3 separate regions of the Homo sapiens genome follow, and all the other regions are reported to be linked to region 3. The links are microRNA targets in miRTarBase. Many come from high-throughput screens and were not tested one by one. Region 3 holds a microRNA gene; each other region holds the end of a gene's coding sequence.
The links. Region 3 holds the annotated microRNA hsa-miR-3173-3p (AAAGGAGGAAAUAGGCAGGCCA, at 3,130-3,151, shown strand). A microRNA usually pairs through its seed, bases 2 to 8, with sites in the 3' UTR of a target mRNA and lowers its output. Matches are read on the target gene's strand: a 7mer-m8 pairs with bases 2 to 8, a 7mer-A1 pairs with bases 2 to 7 and ends in A, and an 8mer does both.

Region 1 (5,073 bases), not on the chromosome of region 3:
CAGAGGAGGAAGATGAAAGTCCCCAAGAGCTGGCAGGAGAAGGTGGTGACCAAAAAAGTCCAGCCAAGAAAGAGCACAATTCTTCAGTCCCCTGGTCAAGTCTTGAAAAGCAGATGCAGAGAGACCAAGAGCCCTGTTCTGTGGAGAGGGGTGCAGTCTATTCCAGTCCACTATACCAGTACCTACAGGAGAAGATACTGCAGCAAACAAATGTAACCCAAGAGGAGCATCAAAAGCAAGTTCAGATAGCCCAGGCATCAGGCCCAGAGCTTTGCAGTGTATCCCTCACCAGTGAGATCTCAGATTGTTCTGTCTTTTTCAACTACAGCCAAGCATCACAACCATATACCAGGGGACTTCCACTTGATGAGAGTCCTGCTGGTGCACAGGAAACACCAGCTCCCCAGGCCTTGGAAGATAAGCAAGGTCACCCTCAGAGAGAGAGGCTGGTACTACAAAGGGAGGCAAGCACCACAAAGCAATGAATCATTATCATCTCAACATGCCCCCAATTTCTCTCCCAATCACCCTCAATACTCACGTGTACACATTCAGATGCAGATTAACAATCTTTTAAATTCTCTTCCTAAATTTCTACAAAAACAAATAATAAAATATTCAGCAGTGGGGGACACCACTAAAGAAACATCTGAGCAAACAAATACAGTCAGTAAAACTCCTACCAAACAATGCTACTTCCAAATGCCAAAATGGGCTTTGTCATGAGACAGTTTATCTCAATGTACCTGTCATTAAAAATGGAAAAATTCCTTCCATATCTTTAGCAGGTGCCAGTTTTTCCAACTGATTCATTGAATTTAAAATAGAGCAGTAGGAAATTATAAGACTCTGCAATAATATCTCATAATCATAAAATATTAATTCATATATATAGATTACTCTGCTTCATGACATTTCCTAGAAGTATTTCAAGTTCATCCTAAAATTTTATCCTTCAAAATAATTTTAGACAATGCCATAACTTAATTATGATTTTCTAGCACTTGATTAAAGTAAATTTATGACTCTGCTCATGTTCAGGTGCAGCTGAATCTATCGCCATGGATTCATTCTTTCAATTACTCATCCAACAAATTTTTATTAAATCCCACTCCTTACACAAACTTTTCATAGCTTTTGGCTCAAATAAACAATCAAGAATAATTATGAGAGAAAACACAAATCTAAAGTATGTTTGATTTTATAAGAAGCTCTTGTAACCAACCATCCAGTGAGTCTACTAAGTGTTTACCTATATGGTTTGATGAGGGTATTAAATTAAAATTGATAATTAAACAACCTGATGATCAATTTCTTTTGTTGGGTCATTTTTTTCCCCTCATTCTCCGTCTTGCCTTGGAGACACTGATCAAAAACGAAAACAATCTTAGTTATTTGTGTTTTTTCAAAAGACTATAATTAAAGTATGATGCTCTTCAAGCTTAGTCATGACCCAGGAAAGGAATAAAATTGTTATCATACAATGTTTCCTGAAGCCAAAAAGCAGTCCAATACTCCATCTCCCATTGCATTCTGCCTTCGAGGTTCAGTATTCTTCCACTTCAACCTTCACATTTTCCAGAGCCTAAAATCCAAGTATATAACCTCCCCCTCCAATATTTTCAGCTCTTTTCATTCTACACTCAAATATGAATTATATCCCTATCTGAAAAAAATATTACTTTAAATGAGCAAGAAACATGAGACAATTCATAAAAAAGAAAAATATATATATTTCTTTTAGTTTGTCCATGCTCTAATATACATACACATACACAAACATACATATGTACTACACTAGAGCATAGACTTACTAAAGGAAAAAATTATATACATAATTTTTAGTTTATAAAATTATATACATAATTTTTAGTTTATAAAATTATATACATAATTTTTAGTTTATAAAATTATATACATAACTTTTAGTTTATAAAATTATATACATAACTTTTAGTTTATAAAATTATATACATAATTTTCAGTTTATAAAATTATACACTAATTTTTAGTTTATAAAATATACATAATTTTTAGTTTATAAAATTATATATAATTTTTATTTATATATAATTATAGATAATTTTAGTATAAATAAATATATACATACTAGAGCATAAACTCGTCATCCCTTTTGGCAAGCAATGTGGCAATAAGTATCTGAGTCCATAAAAATGAAAAACTTCATTATTAATAAATTCACAAAAGAAGCTATACAGATGGCCAATAAACATTCGAAATCCTCACTAGAATTGAAGAAAATGTGAATGACAAAACAGCTCCAGTGGCAGTGGTGCTGGCAGTCATAGAAAAGGATGCACAACTCACAGAGGAACAAGAACAGCCAAAAAGCAGAAACGTTTACCTATATGGTTTGCTGACGGCATTAAATAAATGGGCAGTGGCTCATGCCTGTAATCCCAGCACTTTGGGAAGCCAAGGCAGGAGGATCACTTGAGCTCAGGAGTTTGAGACAAGCCTGGACAACATAGTGAGACCTAATCTCTACTAAAATAGAAAAAGAAATCAAAATTTTCTGTACTAAGCATATTTTATTTTCTTAACTGAAAAAATTAAAAACTTAATAGCAACAATTTTTAAACACTCTCTTAGCATTCCAGCAATCAGCACTAATAGAATGGTGGGCAGAAAGAAGAAAAGTTTGCTGAATATATATATATATATATATATATATGTTTTTGCCATCATCCTTCAAGAAGTATTCCTTTGAAGGTGATGTTGCCCTCCATCCAACAAGCCTAAAGACCTCCAGCTTCCACAGTTTTGGACATCGGGCATTGATGACTGTCTTTCATGAAATACTCCCTTCAGTGGTCTTTCCCCATCTCCCTAGTTAATTCCTCTCATCCAGTGCCCAAGACTGTGCCCCCTTTCCAAGGACTCTTCTTTTTATGAACTTTCTCCTCGTGAGAACCCATGCTTGGTCCAACTTACTATTATCTCTTTCACACTGATGAGTCTCAATTCACCTTGTTCAAACCTGACTGTGCACTTCAATCCAGTCTCTACAAATGCTCACAGATATGACGCCTTCTATTGTCAACCACTTCCAGACAAACTGGCTTGTCTTCTCAATTTCCTTCCTACTGTCATTCTCTCAATCTTCATTCTATCATGCTTCAAAGGCACAAACTTTGGAATCATCATTTACCTTGTCTTATTCTTCATATCTAATCCACTTTGTTATCTCAATAGTTTTTCTTTTTTTTTAACTTCTTGCCTTTTAATAATATCTTTGAATATAGATGGTTTCAATTCTCCAATAACAAGATGTAGAGTGGTCAAATGGTTTTTCATACATGTTTTCCTAGTCCAGACACCCAAAAGTATGTCCCTCTCTTGGGCATAAGAAAACCTAGAGTTATATTTAGGGCATCATGTGTGGTGAATAGTTGACCGAGCTGGCATGCTCACAATGACCAAATTATGTTTGTCATATTTTAATCCAATACATTGATCTACTATGAACTTGTAAATAATGTATTTGCTTTCTAGACACATTCCAGGAAGACCAGAGAAACTGACTTTTATCCATATGGAATAATCCACTGGCAAATTTCTTTTAGGACAGACCAAAGCTGATCTAGAACATAATCTTTACATACTTGGATCCTTCCCATCAAACAAGAAAGAACATCTGGGGTGAAAGGCTCCATTAGAAGAGTAATGTGGGATGGTGCTGTGCTGACAACTGGTAGTTCCTGCCCTACATCTTTGTAGAGGACTGGAGCCCAGAGCATGCCATGGTCAACTTGTATGCTGAAGTGAAGAACTCCTTCAAGGTGTGCATGTGCTTATTACAGATATGCCATGGTGCTAAGTACCCCAGGACTACAGGAAAAAATAAGAATAGATGCTGTATCCATGATCATGAGGCACACAGGCCAGAGCGCCAGCTGTGGAATCACACAGCCCAGGTTCAAAGCCTGGCTGGGCCATGACCACCTGAATGACCTGAGGAATGGTCTCAGGCAAATTTGTAAAAAGTGGAGACACTGCCTGCCAGGGAGGCATGTGGTAAGAGGCGCATCCAGTCAGGTCAGGGCACCGCGTCCTCTCTTTGGAAACCTGCGGAGCGGGGCTGGTGGCCCTTGAGGCCACAGCAGCCATGGAGAAGGCGGGCCTGGCTCCAGGCGGCACAGAGGCACTGGAGAGGACCCGGGGGAGCCTAGCGGGATCTGGCTGGTCCTGCGCTCTGCTTCCAGGTTCTGGCCCTGTAACCCGGGAGACAGGGCCGGCCAAGACAGGGCCACTGGGTGCCAGCCAGCACCTGGGCCGGGCGCCAGGCGGAAGGGCTCTGGCAGATCAGCCCCGCACCCCCAACAGCCCCACAGGGGGGCCCATCCAGGGCCACACACCTGCCCCCAGGAGCAGGACGTCCCTGAGGCTAGAGTCCAGCTGGACCGGTGGAAGGGTCTCACCCTTTGCCCTTTTACCCCTCTTGTAGGCACCCTCGCTGGGCTCCTAAGCACTCCTCCACAACCCTGGCTCTGTCACCAGCCCCATGGTGATGTCATAAACTCCCAGATGCCCAGTGTGCACCCGGCCACAGAGAAGTGGGTGACTTAGGAGTATCCTCTCTGCTTCTGACCCTTAGTTTCGTCTGTGCACAACTCGCTCAAAATGGGCAACTCACTAAGCGTATTTTGTTCCTGGTTCCGCCGCAGGTCCTGGCCATGCCATCGGCAACCTGCTTGTCTTGTCCGTGAGGCCTTCCCAGCTGGCCGGGCTCACCCAGCGGCTCCTGCACCTGTGCCTGCCCGGGGAATCGTGGGCCGTTTCCCACTCCTCTTCAACCGTCAGCGACATCTTGGGCCTTCTTTTCCAGTCAGGTGGGATGGCGCCCCTATGAGGCTGTGTCTTATCCCTCAGAACACGGGCACCCCACAGAGGGTCCTGCCTCCTGTGGTCTGGAGCCCCCCTTCAAGGAAGAAACCCATGCTGTCTGCTTGCAACTCCATGATGTTTGGACACCTCAGCCCCGTGAGGATCCCTCATCTGAGAGGCAAGTTTAACCTTCAACTTCCTTCATTAGATGAGCAGGTGATCCCA
Region 2 (5,073 bases), not on the chromosome of region 3:
GCCTGGCATCCCACGATTCCCACCACCACAGAGGAACTCCCCAGGAGTGACTTGGACTGGCATAGGTTGGGCCGGCTGTCGGCCCTGGCCAGGAAGCCTGAGTGCATCTAGTATGCAGCCTGCGCCAGGTACCCCTCCCCGGACCTGTGTGCCCAGGATGCCATGTGCTGGAGCCTGGCAGGGGAGGGAGAAGGGAGTGGAGTGACCCCAGCCCCACCCCACTGTCCCACTGCAGGGCAGTGGATTCCCGGCCTCTTACTGGTCCTGCTGCCAGATGCCGCAGTCAAGAAGGCACTGTCCTCCAGTTCAGTTGAGCAGACATTTATTAAGCACCTATCAAGTGCAAGGCACTGTGCTAGGCGCCGTGGGAAATACAGAGAACACAGGCGGTCCCTGCCCACGAGGAGCTCACAGTCTAGAAAGGGCAGCAAGACAGTACACAATCAGTGGCAGCAGCACCAGCCAGAGTGGCAAGTGCTCAAAGCGAGACACAAAGTGCTGTGCGGTCACAACATCATGGGGATGCTTCTGGCAGAAGCACTGGAAAGGAGACGAGGACTCAGGCTGGGCCTTCCAGGAGGGAAGCCATTTGGGAGAAGGGCATCTCTAGCGGAGAGAGGTCCATCTGCAGAGCCCACAGGTCATGGGAAACATGTGGCTGCAGGGAGAGTTTGGGGACAGTCAAGTATGGCTGGGAGGTGGACAGCCACGGACACTAAGCTCAGGAGATGTGAACTTTGTGGTCTGGTCAAACAGCCACTGCAGATCACTTCGCAGGAGGAGGGGTGACTAGAAGTATGTTACTGGAAGGTAAATCTGGCCACACTGCAGCATCTGGACGGCAGAGGGCAGCGCTGGGAGGGGCCAGCCAGTTAGGGCCCACCACCCCTGGGTGTCTGAGAGTGGGAGTAGCGGGCAGGGGCCAGCAAAGCACGAGGGCAGAGCAGGGGACCATACGGAGGGTGGGTGTGGAAGAAGGGAGGGGCCCCATGCAAGCTGCAGGTCTGGGGAGCCTGAGGATGTCATAGGGCTTCCTGGTAGAGTGGAAAGTGCACTCCTGAAGGTCAGGGCCAGTCACTACAGAGAGGGGACAGCGAGGAGAGGGACGGTGTGGCCCTAAGGGTGACTGCAGTTTCTCAACATGTGGTCCGTGGATCACCTGCATGGGAACTGCCTGGGGAATGCGCTCATTTGCAGATTCCCGGGCCTTCCTCCAGAACTACTGGGCAAGCATCTGCCGGGTCATGCCCGGTAACCTACATTCTTAACACCAGCTGCCCTCTCCACCACCACGAGCCCCAAAGGTGGGGAAAAGTCTGCAAGCCACCTGCAGAGGAAGAATAGGGTGTTAAGGACTGGCTTTAGGCAAAAAGAAGAGACAAAAAGAATGAGGGAGGTCTGGGAGTGAGGGAAGTGGTGGGAAGCAGGGAAAGTCCGGTCAAGCCATGTGCACCAAGACAGAGCCCCAGCGCGGCCTTGCAGCCAGGCACCGGGCCGTCCCCAAGGGCTGCTCTCAGTCCGCTTTCACTTGGTGGGCGAAAGCCACATTTGCAAACTGGGAAGTGGAGAGTGGGAGGTGAGGGGAAGCACTAGCAATGAATGAAGAGGATTCTTCCGGGAATCAGGCTGTTTCAATCTAAAACATCCAAGATAAGTGGAAACACTGGGGAGGAAGGTGATGAACAGACGGAGGTGAGCCAGAGACACCTCCTGGGCAAGTCGGCCAGGAGGCGGGAGGCGTGGGTCAGAGACACTGCAGGAACTGGGTGAGGACAAGGAGGTGCGAGGAAAGGGGTTGGGGGATGGTCCCACAGGCAGCCACACCTGAGGCGTGGGAGGCAGGTAGGAGCTGGGGGAGGGCGGGGAGAAGAGGGGTTTCTGTGTGTAGATCTGAGTCCTCCCTCACATCCCAGCCGTGCCACAAGCCGCATCGGCATGAGGCCGGCTCTCCCTTCTTCACTGGTCTCAAAAGCCACCCAGGCCCAAGTCCCGGCCAGACAGCCGAGCCTGCCTAGCAACGCTGACCGGCCGCCCAGGATGGCCCAGACACCTTCTGTCTCCTGAATGCAGCCTACAGGGGTTCAAACAGACTGCTTGCATTAAGGTCAGACAAGGCTCTTTTACTTCCAGAGACAGCGGCCTGGAGCCTCGGGAAGAATGTAGGCCCAGGAATCACCCAGCCCCTCAGGACAACCTCTCTGAGCAACAGACATCCTCCCTGTTGAATGAGAGTGACATCTCTGCCCTGCCACCTACTTTACATGGATGCCACGAAGTGGGAGAGCCTGAGCAGTAGACAGGGAAGAGGCGAGCGGCCCCACTGCAGGAGGTAGACAGGCTACAGATACTTATGCAGCAGCCACACTGAGGCTAGTACTGGAGGAGGCTGAGAACCAGTAATGAGTTCTTAATGGTTTGATAATTTGGGTTTTTAAATATTAAATATTAAATATCAGGGGTTTCGGAAGGAATGATGAATTCCGTCTCATGCTGTAACTGATGAAGGCAACCAATGAGCAATCCTTCCTTCCCATAGCCGAGAAAGGGAAAGGGGACAGGCCAATCCCTCTGAAGCAGTAAGTCAGAACACGAAGACTTACAGAACTCAAACATCAAAGGTCAAGTAGCTTCTAGCCAGGAAAAGTGGTGGCCCCCTCAGCCTAGCCAGCACCAACCAGCATGGGTGGAGACTCAGCCTGGCAGTAAGGGCATTTCCTGGGTTTCCTCTGAAGCAGAGGAGAAATAGTGGGTCAGCCAGGCTGCTGGACTGAACCATGAGCCAGAAGGCCAGAATCACTGCAAGACAGCTCCAGCCCGCACACCTCAGTTGTGCTTTTGAAAACAGGTACAAAGCTGAGGCATGGGAGCTGTGACTGAAGTCGCCCTCCTGGCTGGCCTCGTCTTCTACCTCTGCTTCCACAGCTGGGTGACTTGGCCATAGGCCCAAACAATGGACAACCAGTTCCACATTAGGAGGCATCACGGACGCATCTGAGAGGAAACATGATTGAAGGACAAGCTTGGCCTCATGGAGGGCTCTGGATTCATCCCTTGAAGAACGCAGTGATCAAACAAAACCAAGAAGCAGGCCTGGAGGGAGCACTCTGGGATGCCCCCAAGTCCCCTCACCATTTACAAACCAGCACTGAGTTCTCAGCCTCCGCTCCTCAGGACTAGGAGACAAGATCCGGACAGGCAGGACAGGCAGCAAGCCGACTGTGAGCAGCCTGGGGGCGCAGGTGTAAAATACAAAGCCCTTTGAAGGTCCAGACAATAAGAGTAAAGATGTTAAGATTGCCCAGGAAAAGAACTTCACTGACACTGAATTTGGGCAACACCTAGAACAGACAATATTAAGATATCAATTCTGAGAAAGACTCACAGGAAAGGCTGTTTAGGAGGACACTAGAGACAAACACAGGGAAAATAAATACAGGGGCTCTGGGATCCCCCCACAGAAGCTACTAATGCTATTTATTGGCTTGGGTCACTTTTGAGAATAGAAAACCATTTTTTGGCAAAGCTGTACAAACTCCACATCAGGGCGTCTCCTGCAGTTGGGGACACAAGATGGCCACAGTGACCGGGCTCTTCATTAAACTTCCTCATAACCCGCTACGGTGTTCAGAAGCTAAGACGTGACTTCCAGAGCCAGGCCAGGCATGTGGAGGCCCCTGACTGTGGGCGTGTCAAGCCCTGGCTGGGGAGCCTGCTGCCTGCCCGGCCACTCCTCAGCTGTGGCTGTGGCTGTGGGCATGGCCGGACGGCGTGCACACTGGGCCGTCCCCTTTTGCGCAGGGTGGAAGGGGGAAGGAGGGTGGGACTCCATGGGCTCCACGATGTCTTCTAGCCCTGGTATTCTGTGAGACTAACTTCGCCCTGGTCATTCACCATGGCTAGGCACCAAGTGCCATCTAGTGGCACCGCGGGTCCACTTTCACAACACTCCAACCAAAGACTGCAGAACAAACCAACTCTTACCCACTTTAACTCCGGGGGTGAGGGCAGAGGAGGCTGGAAGGGTGAGCACACTTCATGGTAGTGATGGGACATACTCATCTCAAGAAAATATACTTTAAGACGTCTTGCTTTCCTTAAGAAAGCAACACTTTTTTTTTTATTTATTTATAAAGGCTAACCATATCCATTTGTCAATATTTTCGGCTTTAAGGAAAATAGTTTAAAAAACATAAAAAGGTAAATACACTCAAGAGTAACTGCTATTAAACAGTTCTGAACAGGCAGAAAATGTAGACTTTCCTTTAACAGAAAATGTTAAATCTGTAATAGCAGCATAATTTATATATAGAAAAAAGCTGGTTTTGAAAACCCAGATTTATACCCAAAACATTTTTTTTCTGTACAACTGCGTTTACACTGGGAAATAAGTTTCTTCACATTATGTTCATTCCCATCAGGTACAGGTGTGAGCTTGAGTTTGATCAGCCAGCCCTGAGCGCAAGCTCAGCGCTCAGCACAATCTTCAATCCAACACCATGGCAGAAAGCGCATTTAGATCTTTCATGTATGGGTGGGCCACCAAGATCTGGTCTATTTTCAGTCTTTGCTCTGAGTCAGGGAAGATCTTCAGAAGGGCTTCCCTCAGCTCGTTGGTTTCTGCAGAAGATCTCTGAGCTGGCATGGGCAGGTTCTGCTGGAGACTGGGGAGGGCTGGCAGCAGTGGGAAGTGGGGCTGCTGAGGGAGCCAGTGGCTTGAAGGGGCTCCCTGAATCCGGGTCGGAGGCTGGTGGCTGGTGCTGGCTGCCTGGGTGCCAGGGACTCTGAAGCTGGGGTCAAACATGCCCACATTTGGCAGGGCACTGAGTAGGGGCTGCATATCTCTGTGAATGGAAGTGAGTCCTGGTGAGTTGGGTTATAAGTAAACAAAAAATCATAGAGCTATTTTAGAAGGTACCTGCGGCAGGCCTTGAGGCTCAGGATGCCGCTCCCTGGCTTCCAAAGGCAGGATGCAAGACTGAGGTGGAGATGGTGCCATGAGACACCCACAGAGGAGCCTGCGGGGATTTCACTGACATCACCTCAAGGCGTGCCAGGGAATCAATGCGCTCTATG
Region 3 (5,071 bases):
AAAATACCATCTTTAGACTTTATTTACTTTGATTTCCTTATATTAGCTTTGAAATCTTTTTTTGAACTTTGCTCTAGCTCTTTATTTCTCCCAGATCTCTGGGAATTAGGCATGCTATTGTAGCTTATTCTCTTGTTCTTTGTTTTAGGGTAAGCCTTGGTATCCTAAAATAATCTAAATGCCTTTTGTTTAAAATTTAATTCAAAATAATGGCCTTTTATTCAACTCTTCATATCAGTAGGGCTCTCTTGTAGATGTGTTTCTGTTCAGTTTACAGGAATCTTAAACTTGGCTATTTTTGCATTTATTTTTAGAGCAGAAGCTTGGGCATGCTGTGATTTTCCAATAAACTGCTATCACAATGTCAAAATGCAGTTCAGACAAGAGCAACACAGAGATCTCAAACATTAAAACGGTAAATCTGTGATTCATCATGTGGAAAGAGGAAGAGAGTTTATTCTTGTCTTTCTTGTCTTTTGCTAAATTACAGTCATGCATTGCTTAATGACTGGATATCTTCTGAGAAATGCATTGTTAGGCGATTTTGTCATTGTGTGAACATCATAGAGTGTACTTAATTAACATAAACCTACATGGTATAGCCTATTATACACCTAGGCTATATGGTATGACCTTTTGTTCCTAGGCTACTAACCTGTACACCATGTTACTATATTGAATACTGTAGGCCGTTGTGACACAGTGGTATTTGTATATCTAAATATACCTAAGCATAGAAAAGGTACAGTAAAAATACAGTATCATAATCTTACGAGACCATAGTCTTATACGGGGTCAGTCTCTAAAACATTGTTATTGGGTGCATGACTGTATTTCTAAGTGCATAATATGTGGAAACTATGAAACAACCTCACTAGTTTCATGAGGGTAAGTTGTTTGACCAGAAATTTAAAATCTATAGTTGAAAAACAGTCATGTGGAGTTATTTTGGCTCTGCAAAAGCAGTTAATGGTAGCCAGTTTATCTGTGAAACTAGAACCTTTACCTGCCAGCAGAGATTCAGATCTTTTCATTAAGGCCAAGTTTAAAAAATCTGTTTAAACATGCCAAGAAAGTAAAAATTGGCAAAATTATAGGTTTTCCTGTTTTTATATTACAGATTACCTGTTGGAATTTTAAGTCTTGGATTTGTTTTCCCTAAATAGAAAGTGCATTACTGGGGCCAGTTATTGTCCACTAAATGAATGAAAATTAATTTAAACATTGTAACCTTATGGAAAATATAATTGGAAGGGTTAAATTGTTGTTCTTTATGTCCTTGTACATCCTCTCTCCTGCACTCATCTCTCAGGGCTGGTAGGAGTGGGATAGATGTGTGTTTCCAAACCGAATAGAAATATATCTTGATCCATCCATGATTCTGTTCTGTATATTATTGTGTGGACATTCATGAGTCTCTAATTCAGTTTGTCAAATATTTACTTAAATGTATATACAGAACATTGTAGCAGGAAATTTAAGAGGTGCAAAGAATGAGACTCATGTCTTGTTCTTATGGAGCTGTGCTCCAGTAAAAGAATAACATGTATGTTGTGTATGTGTGTCTATGAATAGCTCTAAAAATCTGTGATAGAAATTATGAAAGGCAAATAGAAGCTGTTTGAGGTTTTAATGTCACTCAGGTGGACATTGTTTTCATTCTAACAACCTGCAGTTTTTGTTTACCATGTCCTGGATGTGGTTCTGTACAGTGGGTAATACAGGTAAGGGTAAGATATGCAGCTCCTATATCCAAGGAAATTCTAGTCTAATTGGTCATATTTTAGTGAGAACAGAGTTTTAAGAGAAATTTTCTAAATAAGAATTCATATAAAATTACAGAAGTACATTTTATGGATTAAGACTATACCCCAAGCCTCTGTAGTATAACTGCTAGGATCACTTGGATTGAGCACATAGGATTGAAATACAGGATTAAACACTTTCAGTTGGTCAGTCAGGGAGGATGCATAATATGCTATAGGCTTTCAGCCAACAGGGATTACTCTTCTGTTGTGGAAATTGCTGGTGAATGGTGATGAGGCAGCAATAGGATAGCATTCTTTTTTTTTTTTTTTTATTTTTTTATTTATTTTTATTTTTTTTATTATACTCTAAGTTTTAGGGTACATGTGCACATTGTGCAGGTTAGTTACATATGTATACATGTGCCATGCTGGTGCGCTGCACCCACTAATGTGTCATCTAGCATTAGGTATATCTCCCAATGCTATCCCTCCCCCCTCCCCCGACCCCACCACAGTCCCCAGAGTGTGATATTCCCCTTCCTGTGTCCATGTGATCTCATTGTTCAATTCCCACCTATGAGTGAGAATATGCGGTGTTTGGTTTTTTGTTCTTGCGATAGTTTACTGAGAAGCTGGGTGAATAATCTGAACGTAAGGTTACAGGTCGGCAGAAGTCAGGCAGTCATGAGTGGGGGCAGTACTTTTCAGAGTACATTTGGGACTAGATATCACAGAGTGTAGTGCTTTGCTTAATTTCCTTTTTAAATATCAACTTTTTAATGAATTCCATTCCAGTAGTTTGTATTATTTTCTTACACATGGTTTTTTGTGAGAGCTGATAGAAACCTTAATCTTTTCAGGTATTTTTGGTTAGAGATGTTATTTCTGTATTTCTTTATTGTTTGATATTTATTTTTACTATATAATGTATCTATTTTCTCTTTATTTAGAGCCTAAATGTTGATAAATGTAACCTTTCATTTCTCTGTTTTTTTTTTCCACTTTTTTTCTCAGATTGATTCTTAGAAACCAGCTACCTATCATTTTTTTCTAAACCCTGTGAAAGTTTTAGGGTGGGGTAGGGCATTTATGAGAAATGTTGTGTTTGCTAAGAAAAAAAAAAAATCTCTGTCCTTTGAAATGCCAGGAACAGAACCTGGACACTGAGTGAATTTGCAACTCCTCCTTTTCCAAGCTCTTTACCTGCTGGTTTGTAGGAATAGGATCCACATACTTGAGTGAGGTTGGTGTCTTGAGGTGAAACCGGGCCTGAGAAACATTGGAGGTCTAGGGCTTATTTTCCAGATAGAATTGAGTCTTTGTTGGTCTTGGGCCAGCTTCCCTGCCCTGCCTGTTTTCTCCTTTGTGATTTTATGAGAACAAAGGAGGAAATAGGCAGGCCAGGGAAACGATCTCTCTCCCTCTCTTGTGCCGAGGAAGAACTGTCCAGATTTTTCCTCAATTTGTTTCCGAAACAAGCGGCTTTGCAGTTTCAAAAAGAATTTACTGATAGCAGAAAGTGAAAAAAAGTATTCCTAAGGACAAATAAGGAGAACATTTTCAAAGTCTTAGAAGCTTCTTGGTAGAGCTCATCCCTGGTTTTTTGGAGTCTAAGACCCTTGACTTTTCCCTTACAAACAAAGCTTTTCACCTTGCTTGGGGTCTGGCTGCAGTACTTGTTCATTATCTCAATATTTGTGGCCTGATGGCTTTCTGCTTTGATCCCTGACTTTTTTCCTTTCCCCTTCCCCTTTCCCTTCCCCTTCTCCATTCCCTTCCCCTTTTTCTTTCCCTTTCCCCTTTCCCTTTTCCTTCCCCTTCCCCTTTCCCTTCCCCTTCCCTATCCCCATTCCTGTCCCCTTTTTCTTTCCCTTTCCTCTTCCCCTTTTCCTTCCTCTTATTCCCTTCCCCTTTTTCTTTCCCTTTCCCCTTTACCTTTTCCTTCCCCTTCCCCCTTCCCTTTTCCTTCCTCTTTCCCTTCCCCTTCCCCTTTCCCTTTCCTCTTCCCCTTTCCCTTTTCCTTTTTCTTTTGCCTTTCCCTTCCCCTTCCCCTTTCCATTTTCCTTTTTATTTCCCCTTTCTCTTCCTCTTCCCCTTTCCTTTCCCCTTCCCTTTTTCCTTTCCCCTTCCCCTTTTCCTTCTCCTTCCCCTTTTCCTTCCCCTTCCTCTTCCTTTCCCTTTTCTTTCCTTTTCCCCTTTCCCTTGCTTTCCCTTTTTCCTCCTTTCCTTCTTTCCCTTCTTTCCTTTTTTTCCTTTCCTTTCTGTTCATATCTGTTCTTTGCTTTCCTCTTTTCTACTTATACCTTTTACAGGAAGTGATAATAGTGATTTAGAGAGTGTCATTTGGTTTGCTTTTATCCCAGAATATTCAACTCAAGCTAGCTTGGATAGTTAAGGAATTTGTTGGCTCAGTTAATTGGAAAGTCCATTGTTAGGCTGGGCTTTGAGTTTGGTTGATCCAGCAGTTTATTGATGTCATCAATGACCCAGGTTCTTTATTTTTGCCATCTGCGGTGCTGGTTTCATCCTAAGGCTGGATCTTTTCATGGGTCTGTGTAGTGTAATTGCAGCAGCAAATGGGACTAATAATTTCATGAGTCATCTTTAGAGGGAAAGAAAGACAACTGCTTCTCTTCAACCATCAAATGAAAGTCCTAAATTTTTTGCTGTTGGATGAGCATGAACCAATTCCTCTGGCCAGGGGTAAGTTGTATGCCCATCAGCTTAGGTTTGGGTGACTGGCAGATGGCAGAAAATAAGAAACTAGAGCCTAGGCAGCATAGTGAGACCCTGTCTCTACAAAAAATTAAAAAATTAGCCAGTCGTGGTGATGCACACCTGTGGTCCCAGCTACTTGTGAGGTTGAGGCTGCAGTGAGCCATCATTGCACCACTGCACTCAGCCTGAGTGATCGAGTGATTCTCAGTCTTGGTGAAAAAAAAGAAAAAAAGAAACTGGATCCTTGATCAGTGAGCCACTGTTTGACTGAGACCACGCTGAGTTGAGCATGGCTATTACCTGTGGAGGAAATGGAGTATTTGAGAGCTAGCCAGAATCACCTGTCCTTGTGCTTTTGAATACATAAAGGAATGAGGTATTTATTTATATTTGAGCAGAAAATGAAGAAAAAGATTTATGTTGCAAGAATAATAGGACAAAAATATGTGCTGTACCCATTTTGCCCCACTTGCTTTATCAGCTGTGTGTGTGTGTGTGTGTGTGTGTGTGTGTGTGTGTGTATCTACATGTAGATTCTTTTTCTGTACCATTTGAGAATAAGTTACATGTATCATAGCTCTTTACCCCTAAATACTTCAGTGTAT

Region 1: the mRNA of TCHHL1 is a reported target of hsa-miR-3173-3p. Seed matches in the 3' UTR shown: 7mer-A1 at 1,112-1,118.
Region 2: the mRNA of N4BP1 is a reported target of hsa-miR-3173-3p. Seed matches in the 3' UTR shown: 7mer-m8 at 3,811-3,817 and 7mer-m8 at 1,775-1,781.

What each region holds. Positions count from the first base shown.
Region 1 is chr1:152,080,379-152,085,451 of GRCh38, reverse strand. It overlaps TCHHL1 (trichohyalin like 1), which reads left to right. Exons shown (of 3, transcript NM_001008536.2): 3 at 1-1,311. The coding sequence ends at 485. It also overlaps the pseudogene LOC100131107. Among named protein-coding and RNA genes, the nearest start is that of TCHHL1, 6.1 kb to the left of the region's middle.
Region 2 is chr16:48,538,421-48,543,493 of GRCh38, forward strand. N4BP1 (NEDD4 binding protein 1) reads right to left here. Exons shown (of 7, transcript NM_153029.4): 7 at 306-4,841. The coding sequence ends at 4,484. Among named protein-coding and RNA genes, the nearest start is that of N4BP1, 69 kb to the right of the region's middle. RefSeq lists enhancers at 154-653, 3,201-3,701, 3,702-4,202.
Region 3 is chr14:95,136,003-95,141,073 of GRCh38, reverse strand. MIR3173 (microRNA 3173) reads left to right here and starts at 3,088; the gene lies at 3,088-3,155. The region is part of intron 1 of DICER1 (dicer 1, ribonuclease III); the gene reads left to right.